Homo sapiens: one gene and its partner. The protein of the gene in region 2 purifies or fractionates together with the protein of the main gene of each other region. This does not show direct contact. Each region holds a gene or a part of one and is shown on either strand. Other genes may lie near its edges. The genes, in order: MPP7 and PTPN4.

Region 1 (16,637 bases), on a different chromosome or scaffold from region 2:
CCAATGCTTTCCAACCTGCATGGCATTGAGTCCCCAGGACAAAATACAAGAGACAATAGGGCTGAGAACGCTTCCAATGGAAAGACTAGAAGCATCTACTCTGATAGTGTTTGAGAAGCAACATCTTGGGGAATCCCAGGAGAACACAGTTCACTGAGACTGAGTGTGAGCAGTAACAGTTAGAAGGTTCTTCACCTCAACCATCTTCGATTTAAGTGATCAGATATGAAATTTACAACTTAGTTCATCTACACCTCTTTCCACCCAAACTCTGAACTCTGGCATCTTCCAGATAGTATTAGTATTAGGGGAAAAATACGTTAGGTTTTTTGTTTGTTTGTTTGTTTGTTTTGTTTTTTGTTTTTGTTTTTTTTTGAGATGGAGTTTTACTCTTATTGCCCAGGCTGGAGTGCAATGGCACAATCTCGGCTCACTGCAACCTCTGCCTCCCAGGTTCAAGCGATTCTCCTGCCTCAGCCTCCCGAGTAGCTGGGATTACAGGCATGTGCCACCACGCCTGGCTAATTTTTTTGTATTTTTAGTAGAGACGGGGTTTCACTATGTTGGTTAGGCTGGTTTCGAACTCCTGACCTTGTGATCTGCCTGCCTCGGCCTCCCAAAGTGCTGTGATTACAGGCGTGAGCCGCTGTGCCCGGCCAATGTTAGGTATTTTTTAAAACCCCACGTGTTTCTGTTTATACAAGACCCCACCAATATTAAGAAAATGTTTGACAATGTTTTAGACATACAAACTTCATGTAACAACATAAGCAATGTGTTTGTTTCTGAATTAACTTTATGTATGAAAACAACAAATAAAATTACTTAAGAATCCAGGAAGAAGAAGCTTACTCAACTTGAAAAGCTTTATTACAATGACTTGTAGCATCCTGTGATATATTATTCCTAAGTGTTAAGACATTCCAAAATACCGGTACCGTGTGCAGTGAATTCGTTATTTTACTCAATGCTTAAATTCTTTTTTGCCTATTGTGATTATCAACTGACAAATGTTTGCCTTTGAATGAACTAAGTTACACCTTGCTTAAATGGATACCCTTTGGCTTCAGTTAAATGTTTTCTTTTTACCTGCATAATAATAATCATGACTAGTTAAAACAAATTCTACAATAAAATATTTTGTGTTTTCCTTTCTAATCTTTAAATGGTTGAAAAATTGTACATTCTTGTTTCTTTGACTGCAAGAATTTTTTAAGAGTTATTGTGTAAAACAAAAATTTTGAATTAAGGTTATTCAGTCAGCAATATTAGAAACTTTTAGGTTCTTATATTTTGATAACTAAAAAAAGGAAACAACACTATAAAAACTCACACTTGAATATTCTGTTGTAAAATACACTACCTGAATAACAGCTTTTTCTTACTCCTTTCTGAAGACAATATATACTGGATTTAAATATTTAATATAAATCACATCCTACTGAACTTAAATTAATTTGATGTCATTAGGAAGACAATTCTTAACTTGTATTTAGATTTCAATAGAAAAGCAACAAACAATACCACAAATGAATTCCTATTTCTTTCTTAACGGTTAGGTAGTACATGCAACCAAACTATAAAAATAAGTTTTAGGCAGAAAATTAGAATACTTTAAATTATATTGACACAAGAAATGCAAGCTGCCAAGTTCCTGTCATGCAAAAGTACTCCTACATTCTATCTGAGACATAAGATTCACTTTTACTCATTTCCAGAACACTTAAGCTACATCTTGTATATAATAATCTAAAAGCTGGTCATATAAAAGAAAATCTATCAGACTTTGAGGCCTGCTTTTCTCTCTGCATTACTAATATAAATCCATTATGTGGGAACCTATCATTAGATGATGGAGAGGGAGGGAAACAAATTTCCATTACAAATATCTTTGTTCGGTAAGCAATTCTTCCAAAAAATAGGGGGAGGAGACAAGTCCTTATATCCAGCTACTTAAGACTTAGAAATATTTTAGGTTTAAGAGGTCATGTTTTAGTTTTCAGGAATTTTTTAAGAGGTAAATTATTTTTTTGTTTGAAAAGCCTTTTTATTCTTCTGGGTTTGTATTAGATACACAAAGATTCTTTAGGGGAGGACATAACCAAGCAACAAAGATGAATATGACTTGCACTTATGAATTTTGCATAAGGAGGCTAGTTTCAAAGCCTAAAGAGGTTGTTATTATCATGGCTCCTGATTTTACTTACCTTGGAGCCAAGAACTAGAGCTCTAGCACAAATATAAGTGCAAAAATGCAAAGACAGTAAGATTGGGATGTGCCCTTCCTTATTTATTTCTATGTTGATATTAACTGAAACCCTATAGTTCCAGAACCATCTTCCATGAACTTTTCCCCCATGCAAACTCAAGTTATGGTGATACACTACAAATGAAATAAAAAGCAAAATAAAGATTTAGAAAAGAGTAATACGAGCAATCACTTTGTATAAAAAGTTAACTGGCTAATTTCGTAAATGGTATTATGTGACTAAATTCATTATTTCAAATCCTATATTTGCAATTTCCTCCTAGATGTTAAGTACACTTGTAAAAATTAGTGGATAAAGTTTTTATCACTGTATTTTTAAAATAAATTTATAAACATTGACATGATAGAATTATTCTTCCTTTATAAATTTTAATTGAATCAGAAACTTTTTTTACAACCCTATTCTATTAATATTCAAAATCATAAAAACAAAAGATTTTATACCAACTTGCTGTTTTTCTTCATGGCATTTTCCTATAATTCAACAAAGGGCATGATAACGTAAGTTTCCTATTCCAAAACCCTAAGTACCAAATATTGAAATCCAGAAAGTAGTGGATCAGATGGCCTTTACAAGTTTTAGTTTGGTAAAGAATCATCATCAAAACATAGGTTAAAGTGTTTTTAAATGCCATTTAAAATGTTCAGAATCAATACAATGATTTATGCATAACTTTTAACTTTATGTGAGACAATATTCAAGGAAATTTCAAGTAGAATTTCAATTCTTTGAGAATAAAGACATTAGCTGCCTATTTGTCACAGAAATATATTGTCTCTCTGAACAAGTCCATATCTGTTATATGTTTATGATTTAATAAGGATAATTTTGACCAGATTTATTTGAAAATAAATAACATATATAAAAACAAACAATGCATCTCTCAGTGAATCAAACTCTAGTTTAATAAGAGAGACAGAGAGAGAGGAGAAAGAAAGAGAGGAGGACCAGCAAACATTTCTGAATGGTATTCAAGAGGCAGAAAAAGCAAAAACAAAAACAAAAAAAAACAAAATTAGTCAAATGAGGACATTTCAGTAAAGATAAATGCTAGAATAAATATTTATCAGATCCAAATATTGAAGTATTAACATAAAAAAGAAATCATGCAAATCAACATACAAAAGGACTCCGTTACAATTAATACTTCTACATACACACACAAACAAACACACATACCCCCACACACACCTCACCTTCCTATGCATCTATATAGAAACCAGTTTGAAAGAGCTATTAAAAAGCAAAATATCCCTTTTGTATAGTTCTTTTAAAGAAATACATATACACTTATCAAAAATTTTCAATCAATGAAAATTTATAATAATATCAAACTGTACATTTCTAAGTTGCCTAGGACTGAAAAAGAGTTGAGTATGGATCCAGATTCGAGTATAATTACATTTATTTCATCTTTAAGTGACACATTATCTTATCCCACATATGCCAAATATATTAGAAATGTGTAAGCCTCCTATTTAAAAATCCCTTTGAGAGCCAGTCAGGCAAGGAGCCTCAAAGCTCCTTTCTGTTAGTGAGTTGGCCAGTGAAAAGTCATCACGCTTAAGAACAGTGCAATATTCTCACGAAAGCTTTAAGTTTTCTGATGTCAGAAGACTTGTAGCATTCTGTGACAAGGGTTTTTTTCCTTGTGCCTAGACTTAATGTAGCAAGGACAAGCAGGCTTTTGAATGAGTGCTCCACTTTAAGCATTTGCCTGCTTGTGAGATTTATACTCGACTACAGTTTGGCTCCCTTCTAATGTGATTCCTGGGCTATATGCTTCTGCAAACTGACAGAAATCACAGGAGATGTGAAAAATGCAACAATACTAAAAACAGATGTTGGTGTAAAATTCCAGGGCCATTTATTTGGTCATTTCGCTGTTTAATGTACAGTTTCTATGCTAAAAACAAAGGGTTGGTTTTTTCCTCTTAAAATACCTAGAACCATGAAACATCTAGGCGAGGTGGAACAGGGAATTTATGGGATGCAGACTTGAAGAGCTGGGTGGTGGGAAATAAAGAAAAGCTGACAGAAGATTAGGCTGAAAGAGAAAAAAAAGTATTTAAATGCACACTAAGTTTTTCAGTAGTCATACGGTAGCCATCCTTTGTCTTTCTCTCATTTTCTTTTAATCTAGTCTGGTAATAACTCCAAAGGGATAGGCTAAAGGTCAGAAGTATTATGATCTGGGGATAAGAAAGGAATTAAGAACAATTGGTCTTGAGCACAATTGCTTTTGTACCCAAGAAAATGGTAGATTTTTTTTCTCCCTAATCTTTACCAAGAAATACCTAACCCAAACTTCCTGGCTTTGAAGAAGGAAGAGCTGTATTTTAGGTGACATTTAATAAAATAACTATATTTGGAAATCAAAGACAGTAGTAGTAGTAGTCACTTTCTTAAAGAGTGAGTCATGGATTTATTATTAACAACCTCAACCACCCCTTTCCTCAAAAGATTCATGTTAATATTCCAAATATGAATCTCATATTTGTTTGTTCCTGAGAACTGATGATCCCAAAGTTATTGCTAGGGTAATAGGACCCTTTGTTCTGCCATGAGCACCTGCTTTAATAGTCAAAAATAAACATCAGGGTTTGGTTTCTCTGCATTCTTATTAACAAACTTACATGATTTCCTGTTGGAAACTTTCAGGGGCTGAACCAATATTTCTGGTCGTCTCAAAGCCAATCTCCTGGGAGAAAGAAGGTCAACATACCTATCAATTTTCAGCACAGGTCCGAGGTGAATACAATATCAAAATATTTAGTCTTAAGAAAAAACTTAAAGGTTAGAGAAAAAAATGAATGTAATGCAATAGATTCAAATTAAGAAACAAATCGCCCACTTTCAAATTTTTGTAAATTATCTTCCCTCCCTCCAAAACCACTGGTCTTTTTTTTTTCCACCTTTCATATCAACATGGTTTCAAGATATTAATGTGCTATTTTCCATTTGCTTCATAACAAAAATCTAATATGACCCAGTACTGTCATATTATTTTTGGTCATTCATCATACTTAGTTAGACAAAACAGAAATCCAAACCCACAGGATAAAAAATTCTAAGGCAAGGTTTTATAGCATATTTTATCACATCAATGCCAGAATGATATTTTGCAGAGAACAAAAGGTCAGCTGGAGAAAAGCCATTATTATGTACCAGCAGCTCACCTTTCCTGGAAATGCTTTGAGGGGATCAAGCCTGCCCTGGGGTTGGCATCAGCTTCGTGTTTCGCTTGCCACCAAGTTGCATCATCTTGGCTCATAATCTGAAGAATATCTCCCTTTTTGAAAGAAAGCCCAGCTTCCTTACATGGAATTGCCTTATCCTCATTAGGATTATAGTCAAAGAGGGCTTTGATAAACATCTGGAAGAAAAGTTTCATTAAAGATGAATAAAGATAAAAAATAAATGTGAAATGGCCTATATTCTCCTAACTCCGACTCCAAACATAGTAATTTTAAAACTGGAATATTGAAAGAAATGTGTTGTGACAAAGTGGATATGTGTTGGATGGAAAAACATGACTTCCCTCCCACGCACGAAGAAATGTTTTTAAGCAATAATTACCTTGCCTTCTTTTGATGGTGTCTCCTCTTTGCTGCCGGGTATAATCTTAAATGTAATTGCTCCCTGAGACTGAGCCTGGTAACAGATAAAACAAGGAGTTATAAGAAAACCAGACCCAAGGAAGAATAAGGTAAAATAGGTAGAAAGTGAAATGCATCTGAAAATTTACAAGCTTGGGGCTTCTACTCTTAGATAGACTAAACGGAGGAAACTATTTTTGTAGAAATTCCTGTAATGTGAGAAAGAAAGCTCTGAAGTTTGTAGAATAAGTTAAAAAACATTAACTCCTAAATCCACTTTTACTTCCTGTGTACTTTTAAGCTGTCAAGTAAATACATTCCCATCCAAGTTTCTTCGAAATAGAAACACACAAAATATGCACAACACCTTAAATAAACACAGTATTCAATGACTAGAACAGATAATGTATAAAGGTCTGGGTGCAGTGGCTCGTGTCTGTAATTCCAGTGTTTTGGGAGGCAAGGTGGCAGGATCACCCAAGCCCAGGAGTTCAAGACCAGCAATATAGCAAAACCCCTGTCTCTACAAAAAAAATTTTAAAAATTAGCCAAGCGTGGTGATGAAGCTAAGGCCTCTTGAGCCCAGGAGTTCAAGGCTGCGGTGAGCTGTGATCGCACCACTGCACTCCAGCCTAGGTGACAGAGCAAGAAGCTTTTTTTTTTTTTTTTAAAGAATAATGTACAAGGTTCATACAGTTACATTTAAGTATCAGCATCCATGTTTTGGGGGACAAAACACCTATAATGTCAGTAGTGCAGTTACAAATACATGATTCAATTAGTGGCAATGCCCATCAGAAAAAAAAAATAAAGAACATTCATATCTATTGTATTCTGGTGAGCGAGTAAAATATCCAACGTAATAGATTAATTGAAAGATGAAAAGACTGAGTATCTATTCTAACTTCATTAAAATAAGTACCAGCACCCACAAGTTTTTGTTATCTCAGATAGGATTTCTCTTTAAATATAGTCTCATGTCATTCTCTGTCTCTCTCTTTTTACCATGTATTGTAGCCATATTTAATTATTTATGCCATTATTTCATAAGATATGTTACTCCTGCTAATTTGTAAGCTCCATAAAAGCACTAAATACTTGGCACATTTGAAAGATATGAAAGGAAGGGGGGTAGGGCAAGACATATCTCTGAGTCTCACTATCTGTGGTGCACTGGTAAACCAGGACTCCATTTATTTAAAAAAAAAAAAAGGCTCTGATGTGTACTGTCTGTCAATTTCCATGGTATAAATACTTTCACTATAGTCAATTTCAATTCACCAGCATGAAGTTGCTGAAAGCTGAGTTGGGAAATGGTGCATCACACAGTCAGCTCTGGGCCGAGCCTTAAGAAGGCAGCTCTAGTGCAACACAGCAAGTTAAGTAAAATGGGATTCTGATAGTTTAAATAATAGAATTTTATAAAGGGTTGATTTATTTCAAAATGGTAATATCATTGCTATTGCTTATTGTAGAAGGCGCTCACAAATCTTATAAAGAATTCTCATACTGTAATACTGAATTACATTGGTAGAGAGAAAACAAAAGTCTTTTCTATAATCTCCTCTTATTTTTCTAGTTTGTGTCTGTGTGTTTTTTTTTAAATGGATCTATGGTCCTTACAACAGTGTCATTTAATAAGGACTCAATTGTTATTACTATTACTGCTGAGCCATATAGGTCTATCTCTCGTGATTGCCTCACAATAATCTAGCATATGGATGAATGATTATTTGATCAACGCAACTTTCTTGGTAGTTTCCGAATATTTTTGAAAAATTTTGTTTATACACATTTACCAAATTATTGCTTGAGGATTAATTTCCAACTAAAGGGTATGCACATTTAAAATTTTGATAGTTTCAGATCTCAAAAAGTTCTACTAATAATTTATCCCATCCCCAAATCATATAAATATACCTATTTTCCTATACCCTGACCAACTCTAGGCATTATCAAGCTTTCCAATCTCATATCCTGAAAATGCTTTGAGGGGATCAAGCCTGCCCTGGGCTTGGCATCACCTTCGTGTCTCCAGACATCTATGTTTTCTTTTGTAAAGTATTTGTCCATATGCACTGCTGATTTTTCTGTAAATGTTTTTCTTATTGATTTTTATCATCTCTATATATTTTGAAACATTAGCCTTTTATTATATATACTGAAAATATTTTTCATACAATCTCATTTGTCTTTGATGTTTCTTTATGGCACCTTTTTTCTATAAAGAAAGTTTTGAATTCTAGTAGACACATCTGTTATTTTTCTATTTGACTTTCATATCAAGGTTAAAAAGTCTTTTTCTACCTTATAATTATAGAAATTGTATATTACCTTTTATTGTGCAATTTTTGTTTTTTTTGCACTTATTTAATTTGTTGGGAATTTATTTTTATGTATTGTGTAAAACAAGGATTGACCTTATTTTTTCTGCGCCATTAACCTGATACCATCTATGAAATGTTCCACTGTTTTCCCACTGATTTAAAATGCCACCTTAACCATATACTAAATTTTCATATATACAGAGATCTGTTTTTGAGACACACTCAAACCTCTTCTAGTTGGTATAGGTTTCCAGTATGTTTTCACATATAAAAGAGAGTTTCCCTTCCTTTTATCTTACAAATGAACTTTAGAATTAATATTTCCAAGGCATAAAATAATTTTATTCAAGTGTCAGATTTCAAAAGACATCTAAATTAGTTTGACTAATTTGTATTGCTATGATCTATAGCATGGAATGTGACTGTGTCAATGGGAGGAAGACAAAGATAAATGCATCACCAGCCACAGTGTAGATGCCATCTGCTAAGTATAGACTTGGGACAGGGACAGGTACTAAATTCTTTTTTTTTTTTTTTTTTTTTTTTGAGACAAAGTCTTGCTATGACGCCCAGGCTGGAGTGCAGTGGTGTGATCTCGACTCACTGCAACCTCCATCTCCTGGGTTCAAGCGATTCTCCTGCCTCAGCCTCCCAAGTAGCTAGGACTACAGGTGACTGCCACCACGTGCAGCTAATTTTGTTTTGTATTTTTAGTAGAGACGGGTTTCACCATGTTGGCCAGGCTGGTCTTAAGCTCCTGACCTCAGGTGATCCACCTGTCTCAGCCTCCCAAAGTGCTGGGATTACAGATATAAGCCACCACACTCGGCCCTAAAACTCTTTATATATACTATCTCATTTAATCCTCAAAACACTCCAGATGGATAGTTACCTCTTATTCTCATTTTGCAAATGAAAACACTGAGGCATGAATAGATTAAGATATTTTCCAAGAACACACAGGGATTAAGTGTTCGAACCCTGCACTGCTTAATACAAATCCTGTCTATGTCAAACCAAGTCTAAAAGTCTGAAATACAGTGATTCGATTTTATTTTTATTGTACCTTTAAAAGAAATTTACAGCTTACCAAAATCTGTATTATTTCCTCAGGCCTTTTATCCTCCACTGGTATCCCGTTGACTTCCCTAAGTTCATCACCAACATGAATAAGACCTGAGAAATAGGAGATTTGGTAAATTAGCAGTGTTACCCACAACCAAAACTGTAATTTGCAGCTGTTTCCATAAGTAAAGCATTGTTAGGTTCCCTTAATACACTTAACGAATGGAAAGGAGACCTTCACACATCTCAGGTTTCAGCCTCTATGCCTCTCCATAGCAGTGACTCAAAAACCACAACATAGTAATGCTGGCCAAGAAATGGTAACAGGAGCTTGGTCTTTGTCTAGAAATGCACATTACTGATATCTTATACTAATATACTAATAAAATAATTTTTATTTATCTTAAAGGCTGCATGCTCTTAGCAGTACTTTTCAATTGAGAAATACAGAAGAAACAAGATTTTTTTTTTTTTTTTTTTTTTTTTTTGAGACGGAGTCTCGCTCTGTCACCCAGGCTGGAGTGCAGTGGCACAATCTCGGCTCACCGCAACCTCCGCCTCCCAGGTTCACACCATTCTCCTGCCTCAGCCTTGCAAGTAGCTGATACTACAGGTGCCCGCCACCACACTTGACTAATTTTTTTTTTTTTTGTATTTTTAGTAGAGACAGGGTTTCACCGTGTTAGCCAGGATGGTATTGATCTCCTGACCTCGTGATCCACCCGCCTTGGCCTCCAAAAGTGCTGGGATTACAGGCGTGAGCCACCACGCCCGGCCCACAAGTTTTAAGATAGCTTTGGATGCTTGTGTACAAGAAGACCATAGAGTAATGTTTATCTATCATTTATTTAAATAGGCTCTCACATTTCAACACAGAGAAAAATATCTTATTACTTGTTCTGCTGTATTAGATCCAAAGATGGTTATCCTCTTAGTTATCTACTGGAAATGCTACACACGAAACACGTGATTAGTCTGTACTTGGTTAACATTTAAAGTCTCACCACTTCTATCTGCAGCTCCTCCTCTCATGATTCTGGCCACAATGATCGCCCCGGTCTGTTCATCCTTCTTAATGGTAGCTCCCTTTTAAGACAAAAACAAAAAGCATTTGTGGGTAAATGTGTGTACTAGGTGTTAGAAAAGGAGGAAATAAGGACATTCATCTGAAAAAAGAGAAAACAACTACAAAAACGAAAAAAAAGAAATGAGGCAGGAAAAATAGACATCATGCCATTTGTCTTAGAATGTCTATTCTCATGACTAAATAGAGGAAATTCTATCTACATAGCATCAAAGGGTTTCAGCCCAATTTAAGGATTTTTGAAATCTTCAACCTCTTCAAAACTGTGTAAAATAAACATACCTTCTTTCCATTATAAAAATACCTTGTATTTCAATGCTGTTTGGTTTTTATCCTTTTAAAGCAATTCTTCATTCATTTCATCCTTATAGTACCGCATCAAGAAAGTGGAATAGTGACAATTACACTAATAGACAAAAGATTCTATATGTTAAAAAACTAAAACCCAGATCATTTGACTTTTAGTTAGTTCAGTGATCCTTCTATCACCCTCAGTTATCATAGTAAAAAAATAAAAATTTAAAAATTAAAAAAAACTTGGGCGATAATTATAAAGAAAAAGAAAAAAGTTAAAACCCAGAAATTAGTTATATTTGTTGCCTAAGTCTAAGACAAATGATTAGAAGAAAGAGCTCTTACTCCATGGTTTTAGTGAACTAGGATTGTAACTAGTACAAATAGAACTAAGTATTGGCATAAGATTAGGAAACAGTCTCAAAAAGAAGCCAAAAATTCTTCACTTACAGATACTCAGAAGCAAATTAACTGCTGCCTTGTAAGAACAACAGGCACAAGTGGTTACTTTGAAAGCCTTTCCATGACTTTCCTTTTAAGAATCTGGCATTGGTTTTGCAAAGCCATCCAACATTGCATAATACTGCTAAAAAGGTATGCTTTTCAGTGGCAGCAGAATTCATCCAAAAGAAGTGAAATTTTTCTCCAGTTTGTCAATAAACACATTTATATCATTAAAGAACAGATATGTAAACAAAGTAAAAGTCCATCTGTAATAAGTATCCTTTATCTATAACTATCAGATACATAGCCAATAATAGTAAAAAAGTCAAAGAATTAAGTGACAGGCATTTTACGGCATTTTTCATCACCTGTGCATGTATTCAAGGCCAGAGACTTGAATGAGCATCACTTCATGGTCATAAAGCTTAGACTCACCAACTACTAGTATTTTCTGCTTTTATTTCAATTTCTAACTTGTTTCCAAAATGACTGGAAATGTAATATTCTCAATATAACTAATTAGTTTGATTAAATCAACTTTCATTTTCCTTAATGACATGTCTCAAATTTTCCCACCAAATATGCCCAACGGCAGAAAAGCCTAGTAATCTAAGTTTACTTATCCATAGTTTCTGGATGATAAACTGAATATTAAATGGTCGTAATTTGTCTAAGATCAGATAACTAGTATATGGAAAAATCAGGACTTGTTTAAGGTAATCTGACCAGAGACACAATCATTCATCTCAATCATCATCCAATACTGCTTAACCTCTATCTTCCCATAACCTTTCGTTCATAAGTTCATTCTGTCTATGAGTTCATTACTCTTGGGGGAGATTGTCTCTAAAAGGGGGATCACCAATTCCTTCCCTCCTTGTATGTGCATGCCATATTCCCACATTAAGTGGTAAAAATGGTTTTGAGGCTTCAAAGGCTATAAGAAGATCTGTAGCTGCCACTTGGGCCTCTTGAAACACTTGCTCTATGCGAATCTCACTGCCATGTAAGAAATCATGACCACTGCTATGCTCTGAGGAATCCCAAGCTAGCCAAGTAAAGGTAACAATTAGAGAAAGAGACACTTGGCCAGCCCCCAACCTTCCAGCTCCAAGCCCAGGTAACAGTTGTGTAAATGAAGGAGCCCTCAGTTCACTCCAGCCACCACCATCTGACTGTATGTATGAGGAACTCCAAGTGAGAACCTCCCAGCTGAGCTCATCAACCCCCAAAATAATATTGTTTTCGCCACAACATACAGCCGTGGTTTGCAACATAGAATTAGTTAAGTGGAACCAATCTCTCTCTGTACTATGGACTGTACAGTTTTTCAGTATAGGGCTATCTAACCTGTTTGTTATACTTAATGCTAGTTCCTTTGACTTATTCTGTATTCAATGAAGTTGACCAATGTTTATTGAGAACTTACTCTGTGCAAGGCACCGTTCTAAGGGCTTATAATAAACTGATGAAAAAGAAAAAAATGTCTGCTTTCTCATCCCAATGGGGGAGACAAGACAATAAACAAGAGATGGAATAATTACATACATTATACAGTATGTTAGAGAGTTAGTCTGTTTTCATACTGCTAATAAAGACATGCCTGAGACTGGGCAATTTATGAAAGGAAGGTTTAATGGACTTATAGTTCCATGTGGCTGGGGAGGCCTCGCAATCATGGTGGAAGGCAAGGAGGAGCAAATCACATTTTACATGGATGGCAGCAGGCAAACAGAGAGCTTGTGCAGGGAAACTCCCGTTTTTAAAACCATCAGATCTCGTGAGACTTATTCACTATCACAAGAACAGCATGGGAAAGACCTGACCCGTGATTCAATTATCTCCCACCAGGTCCCTCCCACGACACGTGGTTATTATGGGAGCTACAAGATGAGGTTTGGGTGAGGACACAGAGCCGAACCCTATCAGGTGGTAAACACTGTGGGGGTGTGAGGGGATGTAGGGCAGGAAATAGAAGACCAGGATGCCAGGGCAGGCGGAGGAAAGACAATGTGAAGACACAGGACTCACTGAGAAGATGATGTCTGAGTGAATAAAGACTGGACGGAGGTGAAGAAGTTAGCCAATGGGAAGGAACAGAAGACACAGCCAGTGCAAAGGTGCCAAGGGGAAGGCTGTGAATAAAATGCTCAAGAGCGAGCAAGGCAGCCTGTGTGGCTGGAGCCCAGTAGCAGAGGAGCGGCAAGAGGAGATGAGGTAAAGGCAGAAGGGAGTCAGCTTATGTGCTTTATGAGTCACTGTGAGGACACTGGGCTTTACTCTGAATGAAAGAGGGAACATGCAAGGTTGTGAACAGCAGGAGGGGCACAACCTAGGAGGACCACTCCACCCACTGTGCTAAGAGTGAAGGATGGCAAGGGCTAAAGCAATGAAATTAATGAGAGGTTAATCCCTTGTCTGAAATGCTTAGACCAGAAGTGTTTCAGATTCCAGATTTTCTTTTCAGATTTGGGCACATTTGCATTCTTATTGGTTGAGCATCCCAAATCCAAGAATATGAAATCTAAGAGTCTCCAATGACCATTTCCTTGGAGCTCATGTCTGCACTCAAAATGTTTCAGATTTTGGCACATTTTGGATTTCAGATCTTCAGATTTGGGATGCTCACTCTGCACAGTAATTCAAGGGAAAGATGATGGTGGCATGGATCTGACTGGCAGGAGTAGAGGTGATGAAAGGGGATCTGGCTATATTATTGGTGGAGTCTAAAGGATTTCCCAACAGATTGCCTATGGAATGCAAAAGAAAGAGAGGGATTAAAGATAGGCTCAACTTCTTTTGGCTGAGCAGCTGGAAGGATGGAATTGCCATCAACTAAAAGGGGTTAAGACAAGGGTGGAACAGATTTGGGGACAAAGATCAGCAGTTTATTTTTGGATATGTGAAAATTGAGATGTCTATTAGACCTCCAAATGGAGATAACAAATAGACAGATGGATATACGAATTTAAAGATTAGAAGAAAAGACTGGAAGAGAAATAACCCTGGGAGTCTCTGGCACATAGACGCTTTTTAAAGCCATGGGCAGAATAAAATCACTTTTGGAATGTATAGATAATGCAAAGCACTCCAACGCATAAGGGTCTCATTATAGACAGAGATAAGTGCCCTGATAGAATCTTCTTGCTATCCCCTGATTCTACTTTGCTTGGAGGGTAAACTACAGACTTGAAGAATAATCTCTCACTTTCTACATGATACTACCACTTGAATCAATCTTCACTTTGAACCCTTCATTCTTGAAGACTTCTATTTCCATATTGTTTTCCAAACCTCTCTTACCACAATTGTTTGATGTATTCCCAGTGCAATATATTTCCATGAAAATAAGATCAAATCTCAAAAACACAGAGCACATTACACGTGATACTGTACAAAAGTCATCAATCCTATAGCATAGTCTGCCAACACAAAATAAATTAAAATTGGATCTAATATTTTAAAAATTACTTATTTTCCTACATAATTATTTTGAATTTATTCTATGTGATTTTGTTTTAAAAACAGAGTATGGAGAATTTCAAGTTAGATTGAAAAAATAAATTCTGGTCAGATTTTTCTTAATTATTAATTCTGTAAAATGGTTTATAAAAGGGGACTGCTTACTGGGTTATCATGATTTCCTTAAACAAAAAATTTATCTCCTATAGAATTGCTTGAATCCAGGAAGCGGAGGTTGCAGTGAGCCGAGATCACGCCACTGCACTCCAGCCTGGGCAACAGAGTGAGACTCCGTCTCAAAAAAAAAAAAAAAATTTACTTTATTTATTTCCTATAAACTGCCGTATTGCAAGGTCTCCTCAAGTAGGTGGCACAGTGAATTTCAGATTGAGCCTTTGAAACAAGTGTTTTTGAAGTGTGATCTACCAAAAACTTGCACCAAGAACATCTGAGACGCTTTTTAAAATCAAGATTCCCAGGCACCAAAAAAACCCTCCTGATATAAATCCCTTGGGATTCAGCTCAGAAATCTGCATTGTAAGTAAGCATCTCAGGTCATTCTTCCAATACCAAAATCTGAGAACCACTGTTCTCAAGGAAGCAAGAGGACAGCCGATGCAAGTAACACTGAGAATTTAGGATCGAAATCTACTCACCAACAAACAGAATTTCATTTTCAAGGGATCTTGCCCCTTAAGTAATTACCCTTTTTCCTATCCATTATCTAATACCCACATAACCTGTGTTCACAGCCTGTTCTCTGAGGTAACCATTCTCTCCTTGAGCAGATGCAACCTAGCTTTTATAAGTATTAACTAGAATATAAATTCTAATATCTTTTAAATATTAGATGGAATATATTCTAATATCTTTTAAATATTAGATAGAATATATTCTAATATTTACATAATGTTTGCATAATGCTTCAGAACTCATAAACCATTCCAAACACATTATATCTTAGCTGATGTTCAAAAACACTTGCAAAGAGGTACATTTCCTGATTTTCTGATAAGGAACCTGAGGCTGAGATGGTGAGTGGTTTGCTCTATAGGATACAGGGCAAAGTGACAGGATCCCAACTCCCACTTAGGTCATCCAGTGCAAGCTCAGTGTTCATGTCACCACATTATGGATCCCAATAAACAAAATTGCATTTTTAGATAACACTGGTAACCTATCCCTTGGTTGCCAAACGTTACAGCCTTTCCTCATGAATCACTTGCCAAGCATTTCCTGACCATCCACTTGCTAGAATTTTATTTCAGCTTAGCTTCCAGCACTTTGCCTACTTCTGATTCTCACGACTGGGGCTCATTCTCCTAAAGATATCTTTGACTCTTAATCTTCTCTCTGTGTGTTTTTCATTGCGCTTTGACAGTCTTGTGGCTTCTCCAACAATTCCCCGAACTAACAAATGTCATTTGACTGATGTTAAATAACAAATTTGTTGAAAGTATTTTCTATTCTTCTGGGTAGTGTATTTTTTAAACTTTAAATTTGTTCACACAATAATCTTACTTTACCTTAACAATAATTGCGAAGATAATACACTAATTATATATTTGAATGAGAAAAATTTCAAGACAAGTAATTCTATTCATTTGATTTCATATTCCAATATTTAAAATGACATTTTAAATCTTAATACTTTATTTAAGGAATAGCTAACAAATAATTTTGGAAATTTCTTCATTGCCATTAGAGGTTCTATTTTTCTATATTAAGCTTTTTTTATTTTTAAAAATAGAGCTACTTGGACATAAAATAAAATTAAATTAAACAAATTTAAGTTCCACGCCTCCTGACCAAATAAGATCTTCAAAAGATGTTTAACAAAGAAATTAGATGTTTACTTCACTGAGACTTCTCAAAAGTTTTGTTGGACCTGCTGTAAATTAGTTTAAATTTAAAAAGCAATTGAATTAAGTATATAAAATAACTTAAAGTTGCGTTCCCATAGACAATAGCAATTTTTTTAAGTTGTACCATGTAATCTCAAATCAACCATGCTTGGTACATGTTACGCCTTCTTTCATAAATGTCAACAGGTTACATTTTCAAAATCATTGCTATTTAAATGTAGCCAATA
Region 2 (16,637 bases):
TGTGACAGGCAATTAACTGGAGAGACAAACTACTCATGTGGAGATGATTAGCATCACATGGCATTTTAAATGGATACTTCCAACACCTGAACTCACTAGAAATAGAGGTGGTTATTACATTATTACAGTAATACATTATGTAAGATGGTTAATTTTGTGCAGTTGATTTAATACTGCATCATTATGTTTTTTCACATTTCTCTCAACTGCAAATGATACCATGTATGGTCTGTGTGAGTTTCGTTAAATTTTAACATTTTATAATAGATTTGTGTATATTTTATGGTAGTAAATGATAAAGTAGACTAGTATCTATATATATTTTATGTATTCATGACATCTAATTTTTCCTTTTTAGTTTTTTTTTTTTTTTTTGAGACAGAGTCTTGCTCTGTCACCCAGGCTGGAGTGCAGTGGTGCGATCTCGGCTCACTGCAACCTCTGCCTCCTGGGTTCAAGTGATTCTCCTGCCTCAGTCTCCTGAGTAGTTAGGATTACAGGCGTGCGCCACCACGCCCAGCAAATTTTTGTATTTTTAGTAGATGCAGGGTTTCACCATGTAGGTCAGGCTGGTCTTGAACTCCTGACCTCGTGATCCACCTGCCTTGACCTCCCAAAGAGCTGGGATTACAGGCATGAGCCACCGCGCCCAGCCAGTTTTTTTCTTAATTGAAAAAAAGTCTTGATATTTTTAGGCTATATAGTTCATCTGTGTTTTTTTCAAATCGTCCCAAACCTCCAAAAATTTTTCCGATATATTTATTGAAAAAAAATCCACGTATAAGTGGACCCACACAGTTCAAATCCATGTTGTTCAAACATCAGCTGTATGTGCGTTTTCAACTTGTAGCATTTTCCACCAATATGCTAGATACAAAAACTTAGAATGAACAGAAAACCAATTAGTATCTACGATATTATAAATTAGTAAGAAAAACTATTCACCCTAGCAGATAAATGAACAAAAAATTTGAAGAATATAAGAAATGAAATTAATAAACATGAAAAAATGTTCAACTACATTACCACCAAAAAGAAATACAAAAGAAAACAAAGTACCACTTCTTTCCATTGCTAGGAAGTTGGTGGTTCAGTTCTACAATCTCATATCTAAGATCTCTAGCTTCAAAACACTTTCAGAAGTGTTTTGAATTTCAGAGTATCTGGGACACAGACAGGTGATACGGCACAGATACCTTACATTAAGTAACATTCTTGATTCTAGGGCAGCACCCTGTATTCAACCATATTGCTATTTAAAATTTCTTTAAGGGCCAGGCACGGTGGCTCACGCCTGTAATCCCAGCTCTTTGGGAGGCCGAGGCAGGTGGATCACTTGAGGTCAGGAGTTCAAGACCAGCCTGGCCAACACAGTGAAACCCCGTCTCTACCAAAAATATAAAAAATTAGCTGGGTGTGGTGGCGTGAGCCTGTAATCCCAGCTACTTGGAAGGCTGAGGCAGGAGAATCACTGGAACCCAGAAGGCAAAGGTTGCAGTGAGCCAAAATCATGGCACTGCACTCCAGCCTGGGCAACAGAGCAAAAGTCCGCCTCAAAAAATAAAAATAAAATAAAATTTCTTTAGAGAATCTGAAGAATGTACACTGTAAGTGGAATAAATGAGACTAAGTAGTCTCACCTCAGTATAAGTCAAGTTTGGTTGCCAAATTAGTTAACAAAACTTTTGGGCTTTTTAGGGATGTGGGAATTTCAGAATTGCATATAACAAACTGTTGGTTACGAAATTCTTTTCATAAACAATTATGATAACACAGATCAAAAGCCATAAAAATAGCCAGATACAAAATGAGTCACAGTATCAGAATCACCTAAGAGAACTTTTTCAAATCACGATCCCTTCCCAAAGAAGACATTCCATTTTCCCTAGCAGCTTCTTGTAGTAAGCCACTATAACTGACTGCAATTTGTGCTAGGCTGGAAACAGTAAGATAAATTAGAAAGATTTCCCTTATTTCAATGCAAATGAAACAATTTGGAAGTCCTTGGCATTTGTAATGATATTTTGCTTTCATGAACAAGTATCTAAAAAAGAAACACACAAAAATAATATTATCTTAAAAACTGATATTTCCCAAATAACTTTAATCCCCTTGGAAAACTCCTTCATTTTATTTTATAGAGAGATGGAGAGATAACAAAAGAATTCTGATCAGATATGAATGTCAGATCACTCTGGCTACAGTGTAAAGGAGATTATAAAGGGCAAAACTATAGCAAACTGCACTTAAAAAGACTACTACAAGAGTCCAGACAAGGCATAATGGACTTATAACAACTAACATCAAGAAGATTTTAAATCATCCCAAATAATTTCAGAAGTTTTGCCAAGTTTCACATTGACAAACTAAAACTCAAGGGCTGATAGGGCTGTGATAGGGAAAATTAGGGGAGAAGAGGGAAACTCGCTAATGATGATGAGAGGCAATAGAGACAGGCAGTTAGAAAATAGTATCCAGAGCTTACAGTACCAGACAATAAGCAGTGATCCAGGCAAGCAGGTCTTTAGCATTGTAGAGGTCAGATAAGCAGGTGGTATCCCAGCAATCACGGAAAAACACAGTAAGGAAACATGGCAGCAGGCAATGCTTACAGTAGATAGCAGAGAGCTCCAGCTACAAGATTGGAGTACAGGAATTTAAAAATAGGACATTGTTAACACAGAAAACCAGGACAGAGCAGAACAGATACAGATCTGCACTCAAATAAACCTACTTTTATTTATTTATTTATTTTCAGACAATAAGGATTTATATGTCTCACAATTCCCTGGCCAGGAATTGGGTAAAAGCTAGATTAGGCAGCTCTTCTGCTGCACTGGATGTCATCTGGCATCATTTGGGATCATTCACTCATCTACATTCAGTTGATGGCTGGGCTGGGATGGAAAGTCCAAGAAGGCATCACTTTCATGTGTCCTCACTGAAGTACTCATCCACATGGCCTTCTGGTCTCTCCTGTGAGAGTTTGGGCTTCCTCACAGCATGGGAGTCTCAAGGTAATCAGACTTGTTACATGGTAACTGATTTCTACTGAGTAAAAGCAGAAGCTGACAAGATTTTTAAAAGCCTGTAGTCCCAGCCACTCGGGAGGCTGAGGCAGGAGAATCGCTTGAACCCAGGAGCCAGCGGTTGCAGTGAGCAGAGACTGCGCCACTGCACTCCAGCCTGAGCGACAGAGCGAGACTCCGTCTCAAAAAAAAAAAAAAAAAAAGTTAGACCCTTTAGATACAGAAAAGTCAGGCAGGTCATTAATGTAAAATGCTTCAGGGAGCACTAGTTCATACAGAAAGAGGTGAAAGGAAATGGGTTACACAAGTAAAAGGGTCTAAAACTTAAAGTTTAAATAATTAGAATTAGTTAGCTTAATAGTATATCTATACAATAGAACATACTACTATATTTTTTAAAAAGAAGAAGAAAGGGACAGCTTTTTATATGCTGAAGTCAAATGATCTCCAAGGTATATTTTAAATTTAAAAATTATGGTACAAAGCATTAATATAGTAAATACCTTCTACATAAAAAAGGTAGGGGGAAAACAGTAATCTTTATATGTGTTTCTATTTGCATAAATACCATAGAATATACAAAAAATAAAAGTAGTTACCTATACAGAACAGGAAAGAGAAGGAGTGGTATCAAGACTTCTCATTATATGCCTTTTTATATTATTTTGAAACTTGAACCATGTAGCCATATTGCCAATTCAAATACGAAAATACAATTTAAATACAATTTTAAAATGACAAGTCTGAGAATTATGGTAATATACACTGCTGTATTAATTAAACATTGACTTATCTGTACTTATTTTACTGTAGACTAACATAGTTATCTATGACTTATCTGTACCATTTCTAGCTATACACTAGATTTCAAGTTCCTCTGAAGAAAGAACAATAATCTTGATGATAAAGAGCATGTCTTATTCAATTCTGTATCCCCACAGCCAAGCACAGTGCCTAGTACCTAGCTGGTGCTCAAAGAATACATTAAATTAGCCCTGGATTGGATTTCCCTCTAAAGTCACCTCCAATTTTGGACGTAATTTTTAATTGTATTGCTAGTGACTCGTCTATATACAAGAATATACTTAGAATTCGTGTTTGTATAAAAATGAGCAAAGAGAAGCTCTTTACACAACTGTATAACAAAAACACAAGATACAAATTTAACTAAAAACAAAATAAACAATGACCCTTGGATTACTCCAAAGACCTACCAAAAGATGGCATTTAAAATGGGAGCAGGCAGCTATCCCAGATACATATCAAAGTTCACTCAGGGCATTTTTTTGATAGTAGGTGTTGCTAATTAGTTTTGCTTACCCAACTTTAAAATAACCATTACAGTTTCCTTCTCTTAATCCCAACAAATGTTAAGGTGTATGTAACCCTTGAAACGCAAAGGTATTTTTCTTGATGCTGTCCCCTATTCTTCCATGACCTGAGATCTTTTACCTCTATGGCAAACTTCTCGAAGAGCTGTCTCATCTATATTCATTGTACACTTGGTTTCCTCAATTTAGTTTATTACACTCTTCCACTATAACTCTTCTGCTAAAGCAACAAACCTCAAACTAGTACACCTCAGAAGAACCTTAGCATTTCAGCAGATTTTCCCAGGCTACCACTTCCTGGCTCCCCACTCCCCCTTTTAAGAATCTATAAGGTCTGAGATGAGACCTGGGGAGTTCATATTTTTCATTAGTATCTCCATAATTCTGATACAGGCAGCTCGCCTGAACACACTGGAAAACCAACTAGCTGAGATTATCAATAACTTTCCAACAGTCAAATTCAAAGCCTCTTGGTCTTCTCTTTTTCTCTCAGCAACATGGCAGCTTCATGAAATTCCTTACTTCACCATCATCTAACACACAACCACACTCCTCTCTCACAACCTTTCTTTCAGTCTTCTTCACTGGCTTCTTGATTTCGGAGAGCCCTTAATCTTTCAGTGATGGTAGTTAGGAGCTCTGTCAGTGTGCCTCTTCCTAACTTTATATATACTTCATAAGCAGTGACAGTCCCACCCATTGCTTCAGCTACCATCTATACAACCTTAAATCCTGCCACTTTGGATTCCACAGATACTCAGAGGCTATGCAGTACAGGAGAGAAAAGATGCTTCAGTATCAGACGAATCTGAATGCAAAATATTTACTCAGCTATTTACACAGTAACATGCCTAAAGACACAGACCTTTTTGAATTTCAGCTCTGTTCTCCTTTTAAAACTGGGAATAGCACCTTTCTAACAAATTTCTGTCCTGATTAAATGAGGGGAAAAAGATTAAATGAGAAGTTCTCTTTCCTACATGGACCTGACAGCAAGCTCTGAGGACCCCATGCCACAGGCCTCAGAGGCGGCAAGCAAGGAGAAAGGAGACAACTAATGCGGGGTCGGAAGACTGGCACATACAAGGGGATTGAGCAAATAAGTAAATACACTGAGGAGATAATAGGAACCAATTTATCACTGCTGGAGAAGAGATTTACAAATACAGAAAGGGAAAAGGCTAGACGAATCCTGAGATGTTAGATTGGAATTGGTTGTATCAGTGTGAACTTATAAAATACCTGTACATAGGCATAGAAACAGATTCAGATGTGTGTATACATATATGTATTTCCTAGCTCTATCCCCCTAAAAGTGATGACATGCCAGCAGAAATGAACACACTGAACACTCGGATCTCAGTTCCTAAATAGCATCTCTACTTAAAAAAGTAAAATAAAATCAGGATTCCTTGGAAAAATAAATGATTTCAGAGCTGGGATAGGAGAGTATTAAGATCATCTGGAACATCTTGTTAGGCCAGAAAGTAAGGAAATACACCAAGGAGGGGGACAGGTCAAGGAGATAGAGGAGCCAACTTAAAGGCCAAATTTGGGACAATTTGACCAACAAAATGAAATTTTAAAATGACAGTAACTAATATAAACCACTAAACAGAAACAAATCCAGGAGTATATATTGATATAAATGAATGAATAAATAAATGTATGGAGAAGAAGGAGAAAATCTTCTTTCAGTAGAATATGAACTAATAAATGTAGGTGACAACTTTCACAGTTGTGGCTGATTCAGGTAGCAATCATCAGACCTGAAGGCTCGTGGTTACAGCCTTCAGCTCTATTGACACACTCCCAGATATCTTCTCACATAAGAATTCCCAATTACAAAAGGAAAAAAACGATAACTTCACAGTAGAGAAACCCAGCAGACTTGAATTTAACAGGTGTTCAAAGTTAAACATCGCTAGTAGCAGGACTATACAGCACGTCTCTTAGTGATGTACTAAGAATATCACGACATTATTTCTATGGCATTCCTGCCAACAATGCACTCGGTCTGCACATGAGGAACCACTGGATGAACTTAAGTTGAGGAAAACATGTAACAGAAAAAAAGGACTCTGCTCATTAAAACTGTCAAGGTCATAAAGGACAGGGAAATATTGAGGAATCATTCCAAACTGATGGAAACTAAAAGATGTGACAATTAAATGCAATGTGTGAACCTGAATTGGATGCTGGACCAAAAAGAAAAGAGAGATACTACTGGGATAGTTGGAAAAATTTGAATGGCATCTAGGTTCGACCTGAAGGTAGTGTTATATCAACGTTGATTTCCTGATTTGGCGGTTATGTAGGAGATTGTCCTGTTTTGCTAAATACACACTAAAATATTTAGTAGTGATAGGGATCATGTCTGCAACTTGCTCTCAAATAATTCAGGAAAAAAGCCAAATGAAATTAGAAATGGTGCATTCCCCTGAAATGGAGAAATAAGGATTAAAATGTAGGACCAGAAATGAGAGATGATGAGGTTGTTTCACTGAAATTTGAGGATCCAATTAGATACAGTAGAAAAAGGGAAAGGGCTAAACACAATTCCAAGGTGACCACTTGGGGCATCTGGAAAAGGCCTTACTGAGCCAAGCACGAGGTGTTCCAGGCTCATCTTGAGCTGTGTATACACACGGTACATAGCTAGTACAATGTTAAAAATTAGTTTAAGGCGATTCAGGAGCTCTTTGTTGTACTTTTCTTGAGATTTCTCATTAGGTTTGAAATTATTTCAAAATGTTAAATGAGAACTCGTGACAACTTCGCTGTCTAGCAAAATACCTGGCTCACTGGAAGTGCTCAATAAAAATAATCTGGCCTTCCCTTGCTAAAGAAGGGAAGCTGCCAAAGAAGAAATCCTAGCATCATCTTCAACTCTTTCCCCCCATGTCCAAATGGACTCTCAGGTCTAGTGAAACTACTCAGTTTTCAGTTCTAATCTCATATCTATATTGCCCTATTTCTGGTTCCTATCATCCCTCCCCTGGACCACTGCAACAGCATCTGGTCTCTCTGCTCCATTTCTAACCTCATCCTTGCATTATCCTTGTAACTTTGCATCATTATCTAGAAGTCAGGAGTTACCTTTCAAAACCTGCATCTAATCTTATCATCCCTTATTTAAATACCTCTAAATTGTTCCTGAATGTTAATGCTGATTTCCCAAGAGGCAGACTAAATGCATGTTTAGGGCACCAGTAACGCAAGGGCACCAAAGAGATATTTCACACACACACACACACACACACACAGACACACACACACACACACACACACACACACACACGCGCGCACATGCGCATACACCAGTGAAATGGGGGAGGCAGCGGGTAAAGGGAGGGAAAAAGAGAGAGAAAGAGGAAGGTGACTTAAGAATTCTTAAGTTTACCTTAAGCTTACTTTAGGATTTGATATTTATTTCTGATTCCATAGTGGATGCCAAGGGTGAGTAGGAACCATAAACTTTCTAATACTTACAGTCTCTAAAACAGTGGTTTTCCCAATCCTTTTCCCAACTTGGCAACAAAGAAAATAATAATTTCTTAGCACGTTGGGATAAGCCACAAATGCTATTCAAAGCCAAAAGAAACCATCCTGGGGCAGGGTGGGGAGGGGGATCTGATATGCCCAGGTCCCATTAAACAAGGGTATCTTGCTCTCCGAAACACTGGTAAACCATTCATGGCACACCAGTTGGGAAGCTCTATTTTAAAGGTCTTAAAATGATCCCACTCATTGCCCAAACACAAGGACCCTCACAAGACTTCATTTCCCACTGCAATCAACGCACATGCGCGCGCGCACACACACACACACACACAGATTCACACACAGGAACAGACAACCACACCCACCCAGACAGAGACAGACATATCCAACAAGACAACTTACATTTCTCCAAACACACCACACATTCTTTCATACTTTGACTTTTTCTATATGCTGTTCTCTCTACCCAGATCAATTCCAAATGATCCTCCAAGACCATATTCAAATGCCACTTCTTTTCCCCAGATCTTATTACACTGTCACTATGAATTGTTAATTGTTTGTTGACATGTGTTACCACCCTAGAATTTGAGCTCAAGGACAAGAATCATGTCTTATTTACCTTTATACCACTGCTCCCACTACAATGGGCATTTCAAATGTTTGCTTAACATATAAAGGAATGTTCATTACATCATCACCAAATAAATTTTCAAATTACATTAATTAAAACAATGAAATACAATTATAAAATTAGCATTTTTTTCTTCCCAAAACAAGAACAACCACTGTAGGTACTTCTGTAAGAGAGAGATCTGGCACAGAAATATTCATGACACTTGACCATTATCCCAGTCCTAGGGTTTTAAACTGAGGAAATAAACAAAAAACCGCTTAACAAAATGTAAATGTCTAAATCAGTTATGGTATATCACCTGAATGTTTAACTAATCACTTAAATTATATTCATTGACCTTGGTGGCTTTGGGTAGCTAAAATAAATAAATAATATTCATGAAGATGGGAATAGAAAAATGAAAAAATAATACCAACTATCACTGACTGATCATCTCTTGTATTTAAAGCACAGCGCTAGATGCCTTACATATAGTATCTTAATCCCCACAATTCAAGACCACCTGACTCAGAAATGAGACACTTTGCCCAAGGCTTTTGACGCTAGATTCCACACCAGATTTGACTCCTGACTCAGAAATCAGACAGTTTGCCCGAGGTTTTTGACGCTAGATTCCACACCAGATTTGACTCCAAAGTCTGTGATCTTTCCCCTACATTGCACAGCCTCCACCATACAATGTTCCCATTATATTCCTCTCAAAATTCTCTCTACCACACAACTTTATTTTTTAAATATGAACAATTACCTGGAAAGAAACAAAAAATAGCTATTATGGTGGTGATCAAGGGTAAACGTTGTTACAGTATTTATCCTTTTTAAAAATTAGCAACTTTTAAAAGTAGCATTGTTGAAAAATGAACTAAATTCATAAGACAATACAAAAGACGCTATTCCTATTTTAATTTTTTTAACCTAAGAAAATTAAGGAAACAGAGTAGGTAACATAAAAACTTAAGAAAAAAAAAAAGCTTAAGAAGATATTAAACTATATCTAAACAAGCATATATTAACCTTAGGGTACTTATTACCAGGATTCATTAACTGATCCTTGTGAGTGGATTAAGCAGCATTCTTCCAGAAACAGGTGAATTTTGAAAAAGGTTTAAAGAGGAGGCACATGAATTGGAGACAGAGATGTTTAAATTATGGAAACGAGGACAAAGGAAAAAACAAGACTATTTTCTTTTTAAGCACGAATGAGAAACAAGGTTAATGAGATGAAGTTGGTAGAAAGTCTTCAAGGTCAAGCAGGTAAATTTGGGATTAATTTGATAAGCACCGGGGAACTCCTATATATTTTTAAACGGGAAGGTGGCATGTTAAAATATGGCCTTTAAAGATTCAAACTTTGTTCCATCATAAAGTACTGCCTTGAGTTACACAATGTTTTTGCCGAACAGTTGGGGAGGTGGGGAATAATCCACTATCCTTTATGTGTGCTTTATACATACGCTTCTCAAAAAGAGAAACTGACTAAACAGAAATCTTTAGGTAATGGGTGAGCATATTGGGGAGGGGATCCTTTCAGACATAATGCTTGTGAATATTGAATGCTACTGTATGTTTTAATAACAGTCACAGAACTTCAGGCAAGAAGGAACCTTGGAGATAATCTCTTAGTGGCGACCCCTTCATTTTCACACCAGATTAGACTGAAGCCCAGAACTAAACAACTTGCCCAATGCCATGCATAAACCAGTGGAAGATTAAATACTACAACTCAGATTTTCTAAGCAGTCAGACCTAAAGCTATGCTCTCCAATACTATAGCTACTAGCCACATCTGGCTATAAATTTAAATTGATTTAAATTAAATACAATTTTAAATTGAGTTTCTCAGACACACTCGTCACATTTTAAGTGCTCCATAGCCACACATGATTAATGGCTACCATAACTAACAGTGCAAAAAATATTTCTATGATATTTGTCAATTATACTTCAATAAAGTTGAAGGAAAAAAGAATATTTCCATCATTGCAGAAAGTTTAATTGGACAGAACCGATCTAAAGAATAAGTTTTAGAGAATTCCACTTACTAGAAGTATGAGCCTAGACAAGTTATTTCATTTCCCTTAGCTTCTATTTGGCAGGGAGAGGACAGGGGATTAATAATACCTACCTCATAAAGCATACTTGGTGAGTGGGACAACATGAAAAGCCCCTTATACAGGATCTGACACTTAACAGACAATAAATATTAACACTCTTCCCCTCTGGGTCCTTTTTTCTTTCTACTACTCTATATAACCTCCTTGTTAAAAAATACAAACACAATAACCAACCCAAATTGATATTTTCCTCATGATAGTCTATACGATGTAATTTTCATTTTGTTCTTACTAATTAATTCAAATACTTGCATCTCTCTTCCAAAGTTTCTACTTAAGAATAATGAAATGAAGAATGAATGTGAGGGAAGATATCTCTAATGAAATGAAAGAGTCTAATAAATTTCCCCTCCTCTTTTTCCCCATTCATGCAAAAGATAAGAAATTATGCTGTTCCTAGACAATGGTACTTTCATATCAATAAAGAAGATTCTACGGTATTTCTACATTATATCCTATCTCATCATCTATACTACTCATTAAATATTAAATGAAGAGATAACACCTCCTTCCTACAGTGCTTTCCTGGCAAACAATAAAAAGGATTTTCAGAATGCTAAGCCAAACTTCAAGGCTTCACAGCTTATTCTAGTAAACTGGCAAATTTAACAAATCTGGATTATAGTACATAAAAAACTTCATAACATGCAATAACCCAGGAAAACAACAAAATTCAACTCAGTTAGTAAACTTCTACCAATAACTAAATTTTACATAGGAGCAACAATTCATATTTAGCCACAATAACCATTCCTAGGGAGTTGATCAATTTTGCATTCTAACTAAGAATTTAGGCAAAACTTTAAAACATTTGCCCCTAAACATACACCAAACAAGATTTCCACGTTTCTGGAAAACTTTTCTTGTTTAAAAGTGGCCATATTAACTCTCAAGCGGGGGGCAGAAGTACTCTCAATAACAAACCTCCTTGCAATTTTCTGCTAGTCTCTTACTTTGCTCCTTAAAGACAACTTACTAAAAACCATGATCACTGATCCCGCTTTTAGAGTTTGTAAGTCATAAATAAATACTAAACAGATAACAATGGATACTGTACTGTACACCTCAATTATGTTTAACAGACAAAACTATTTTAAAAATACAAATCACAGTTTAATAACAACCTAACGAAGTCATACAAGTTAAAAAAAAAAGCTGAAAAGTTTTTATTACCATCTCACGTAAATTGTATTACTATCCCACTTTATTATACTTTTTTTTTAAAGTTAGGCATCTATGCTCAAACTGATTAAATCGAGTATGAGAGATCTATACTTTTTTTAAAAGTCCTTCAACAATAATGAAGTGTACACTGGTCACAGAATAGTTCAAATGAAATTTCCTGAGGCTGCATTCTAAGTACATCCGACCCAGAAAGTATTTTTAGCAAGTACGTTCAATCAATGCTGGTTTTATGCCTAGCCTAAATTAGAAATTGGGTGTTATAAATTTAAAGTAACAATGTTACTAGGGACATTTTAAAAGATATTTAATTAGAACATAAGAAAAAAACACAAGTTTGACTCAATTCAATACCTACAGCTCTGAAGCTAAGATGTTAGAAAATGGGCAGTAAGAAAAATCACATCCTCGTCTATTACTACTTTTGAGGAACTCGTGATTTTCTAACTTAATAAACATGGACCTACTCAATTAATATTTTTAAAAACTACAAAATAGTGGTGCCTCCTTGGATTTTAAAAACCTCTTGCCAAATTTTTAAAACAGACTGGCAACATGACAAACATTCCCATGTACAAAATAGACTGTTTCTCTTATAAATCACTGAAGATTATGATACTATGGGACCGTGCGTGTTTCAATGCAAAATGTAACAAAGATATGTGTACCATAAAAAATGCGAAGAGACATAAAAATTGCTTTTGTGGTAATTGGAGCATAAATTTATTCTAACAAAAAAACAGTGATGTCCACAAAATGATCACACTTACGAGCTAGTGAAGAGGTTCTGTAGAATACACAAACTTCTGCTTACGAGTTTTTTCTTTAAAAGAAAGCTGAATTTATATTAGTCAAATTCAAGATTTAGATGATATACCTAGCTCTATTCCATTAAGCACAGTTTAGGCTCTGAACAATCCTTTATTTTAAGGCCATCTCCTTCCCCCTTAAAATTGAAAAAAAATTTTTTTCCTCTGGCACGTTAAAGTTCAGAAAACCAAGATTTAAAAATGCCCTGGCTTTTACTGTTCCAGTCTTCTTTCTACTCTAATTGTCTTTTGCAAGTCGGACACATTGGCCTTTTATCTTTCTCCATAAATATGTTTTAAATGTGACCAATCAGCTGTACTGTTTCAACTGGGCCCAAGATCTGGACACAGAAACTTAGTATTACTGAAACCTCTTATTCGAAAAGCAGCTGGCATATTGCAGATGCATAACAAGTTATCCTAGAACAGGCGTTTTGAAAAATCCTACAAATCGTCCTTGTACATACTGATGTCACTACATGATGCAAGCCCAGACATAAAATCTTCCACCCTAAGTTTTGCAGAAACATCCACACATCACCTGTGCAACTGTAAGCTGTTCCATTTTATGGAAACCCTGCGAAATGCATCACTGTTTACCCACATCTCAACTTTTTTTTTTTTTTTTTTTTTGGCTCAACTACAGATTCCCAAATACAGGTATATACTGGTAGAATCATAACAGGCTTAAAACTTCAATGGTAGGAATAGTTGGCTCATGCAGCGTGCAAGAAGCGCTCATATGAGCCAAAAAAAAAAAAAAAAAAAAAAGGAATTCTACCAGCAATGGAAAACTCAAGATTCCAAAGCTTTACCTAGAGTTTAGGTACTGGGAACATTCCATCTCCGCACCTATTCCATCCCTTGGCCCTTCGCTGACCCATAACAGAGATTCCAACTATAACCCCCGCAAAAGCAGAGGTCCCAGGAAGAAAGGAAAGAAAGCGTTTTTTTGTTTGTTTGTTTGTTTGTTTTTGTCCTTTTTTCCTTCCTTTCAAATCATCCTCGTACCTCCGGCTTGCCCCACCTGGCTCACCTCCCAGGAGCCACACATGCAGGTAAGAGCCTCCCGTTCAACGTGCAGGGCCGAGAGGCCGGCGGGGACCGGAGAACCTCTTACCTTCGTATATCACAGCCGCGTCCTCTCGGCTGGAGAAAAAAAGCCTCGAGGCCCCGGCGCGCAGAGGAGAAGCGCGTCCTCCGTGCCGCTCCGGGGGGCTACCTCAGCGCCCCCCGAGCAGCCGCCGCCGCAGCGGTCGCGCCACGACCCGGAGCCGCCAGCACCACCTCATGCTGCTGGGCAGCCGCGGGCCGGCGCCGCTGGGGAGGTGGCAGGGAGGCGGGCAGCCGGCGACCTCTCCTACCTCCCTGCAGGGATGAGATAATCCACACCCCCAAAAGTGCGTGGGGGAGGGGGCCTGGCCCCAATCCTCCGACCCCGCGGCCAAAGCCAAGTCTCTTTCCTCTCCCGCTCAGGCCCAATTCCGGCCCCTGGGACCCAGGAGTCCTGAGAGAACAATGTTGGTGGTGGGGCGCGAGGAGCGGAAAAGCGCACTGCGCGGCGTGAGCTGGCGGGTAATCCTGGGCAGCGTTTGTGTGTGAGAGTGCAAGAGGAGCTCAGTCACCCCCCTCCTTCTCCACCTCCTCTTCCTCCCCCTCCTCCTCCTCTATCTCTTCCTCCTCCCTCAAGCACACCCCCTCTCCTAGGCCGCAGCATAGCAACCGAACATGGCGGCTGCGCAGGCGCCGCCAGTCAGTGGCCAGGAGCGGCGGCGGCAGCAACAGGAGGCGATCTCGCGAGAGGCGAGGCCAAAACCCTGCCTCGCTAGCGCAGGGAGAAGTCGCACCAGTCGGAGCGCAGAGGGACACGCAGGTGCGAGAGAGAGCGGCCTAGGAGGATTGGGAGGGCGGATTGGAGGGGGGAGGCGGAGCGCTGTGGCCCCCGCCCCGCAGCCGCGTCGCGATTGGTTGTTTGGACTGCGACCCCTGCTGCACCCACTGACCGCAGGGACCGGATAGTGGGCAAGAAGCGTGTGTTAAAAGGGAAAACCAGACCAGTTGGCAGCAGGTCGCCCCAACCTCAGTGCTCCTGGAGGATATAGGTTTTGGGGGGCAGTTTTGAATCATTTCCTCTCCTAAACGTAGGCTCCAAAACAAAGCCTCAGCAACCAACCTGCGTTTATAAAACAAACGTTCGGGGGCTCCTTCTGTGTGCCTGGAACGGTGTGCTTTTTAAAATTTAATTCCTTCTAATAACATGAATTTGGTGTTATCACGCCAGGGTTTTTAGCCAGGTGCATTATAATATTTTATTGGTGATACAAACTTATTGGTAATACCACAGTTGCCTACTGGCGAATGATCTCAGCTGAAATGGAGGAAGAAGGGATTTGGGGACCGCCACACTTCCTTTTTGCCCAATTTTTGTTAGTGCCCTTTTCTGTCGCCAGGCGCCTTCTTTGTCCTTCCTTGCTCTTAGCTTGAGCATCCTATCAGAGCCTACCTTTATAAAGACGATCTTTCAAAAACCACTTTCCCAAGCCGACAAAATGACTACAAATCAGGGGAATGTGAACAAATCTGGAAAAGACAGAAATTTCTATTGACTCTCTTCTCCCTCACACCTGTTAGTTTTTCCATTTGAAAAAGGCAACTTGTCAATCCATGTTTCCAGCTTTACTTCCTTCACTTGCTTTTCTTCCCAGATCTCTGTTGTAGCCAGTGCTCATTCATTCCTCCCTAAATATGCATTCCTGCCTCTGACTCTCCATTTTGTCTTTGATCATGCCATTCCCTCTGCTAAAATGCTCTTCACCTCATTGTCATCTGTCAACATCCAGTCATCCTCCAACCAAAGATCATATGAGACTTCCACCAGAAATTGAATGTTTCATATAAATAGAATCATACAATATGTAATTTTTGTTTAGAGGCAAGGTCTCGCTATGTTGTCAGGCTGGTCTCCAACTCCTGGGCTCAAGAGATCATCTTACCTTAACCTTCGGAGTAGCTGGGATTACACATGTGAGCCACATGGCTTACATGTAGTCTTGTGTCTGGTGTTAAGCAAGACACAAAAGTTCCTGAGTGGAACTTCCCCTGCAAGTCACCAGGATGGACCCTTTGAAGTTACCAATACTCACCATTATTCCTTGAAAAATCTGAGTTCACCTTAAATCTACCTGCCTGCAACCCTGGAAAGAGAAGAAGCAATTATTGTCCTTAAAAAAAAGAGAGAGAGAGCTTTAGACTGTGCCCCAGGCTCACATGGGCCCACTGAAAATTGAATTGGGAAATAATAAATTAGTATATCTCACACTTTAATATACATGCTGATCACCTGGAGTTCTTATTAAATGGCATGGTCTAATCCATTAGGTCTAGAGTGGGCCCTGAAATTCTGCATTTCTTTCTTTTTTTTTTTTTTTCAATAGAGACAGGCTCTCACTGTGTTGCCCAGGCTGATCTTGAACCCTCCTGACCTCAAGCAATCTTCCTGCCTTGGCCTCCCAAAGTGCTAGGATCACAGGAGTGAGCCACTGCACCTGGCCTAGAGACTCTTTCTAACAAGCTCCCTGGCTTTTGGACCACCCTGGAGTAGCAGGGGTGTAGACTACTGTTCCTTAAACTGGAGTCTAAGAAAAAATATATGCAAATTATCTATAAAATATGTAAATATTTTGCTCTTACTTAAATTATGTTCTTTTAAAAGTTAATATATTCTAGTCACTATATTGGATCATTTGATGACCACCTTGTAACGAAACCCTGCACTTGATTTTGTATTTGGCACCAACCACAAATTTAATTTTCTGGGGCTAATGGGAAAAGAATAGAATACTTCTTGTGGAAAGGACAGCATTCTGGCTAAGTGAAGGTCATACGTCCTTTACGGCACACTGCACAGAAGTTTAACAGAAATTCAAATAGAGAAGAATGTTGAGATAATTAAGTCAATTATAAGCATGCCAAACAAAAAAGTACATACCATAGCAGTGAGTTCCATATTCTCATATCAAAGGACAATTTAA

The links.
Region 1: the proteins of PTPN4 (region 2) and MPP7 purify together in Homo sapiens (affinity purification with mass spectrometry; 2 studies listed by BioGRID and IntAct, with this or other methods). This does not show direct contact.

The regions. Positions count from the first base shown.
Region 1 is NC_000010.11:28,114,745-28,131,381, forward strand, and holds part of MPP7 (MAGUK p55 subfamily member 7), read right to left. Parts: intron 10,348-16,637; coding exon 10,266-10,347; intron 9,373-10,265; coding exon 9,287-9,372; intron 5,925-9,286; coding exon 5,850-5,924; intron 5,647-5,849; coding exon 5,450-5,646; intron 4,972-5,449; coding exon 4,907-4,971; intron 4,318-4,906; coding exon of another isoform or gene 4,313-4,317; exon of another isoform or gene 4,115-4,312; intron 1-4,114. UniProt on the Homo sapiens protein: Acts as an important adapter that promotes epithelial cell polarity and tight junction formation via its interaction with DLG1. Involved in the assembly of protein complexes at sites of cell-cell contact.
Region 2 is NC_000002.12:119,757,474-119,774,110, reverse strand, and holds the start of PTPN4 (tyrosine-protein phosphatase non-receptor type 4), read right to left. Parts: upstream 14,190-16,637; 5' UTR 13,727-14,189; intron 1-13,726. UniProt on the Homo sapiens protein: Phosphatase that plays a role in immunity, learning, synaptic plasticity or cell homeostasis. Regulates neuronal cell homeostasis by protecting neurons against apoptosis.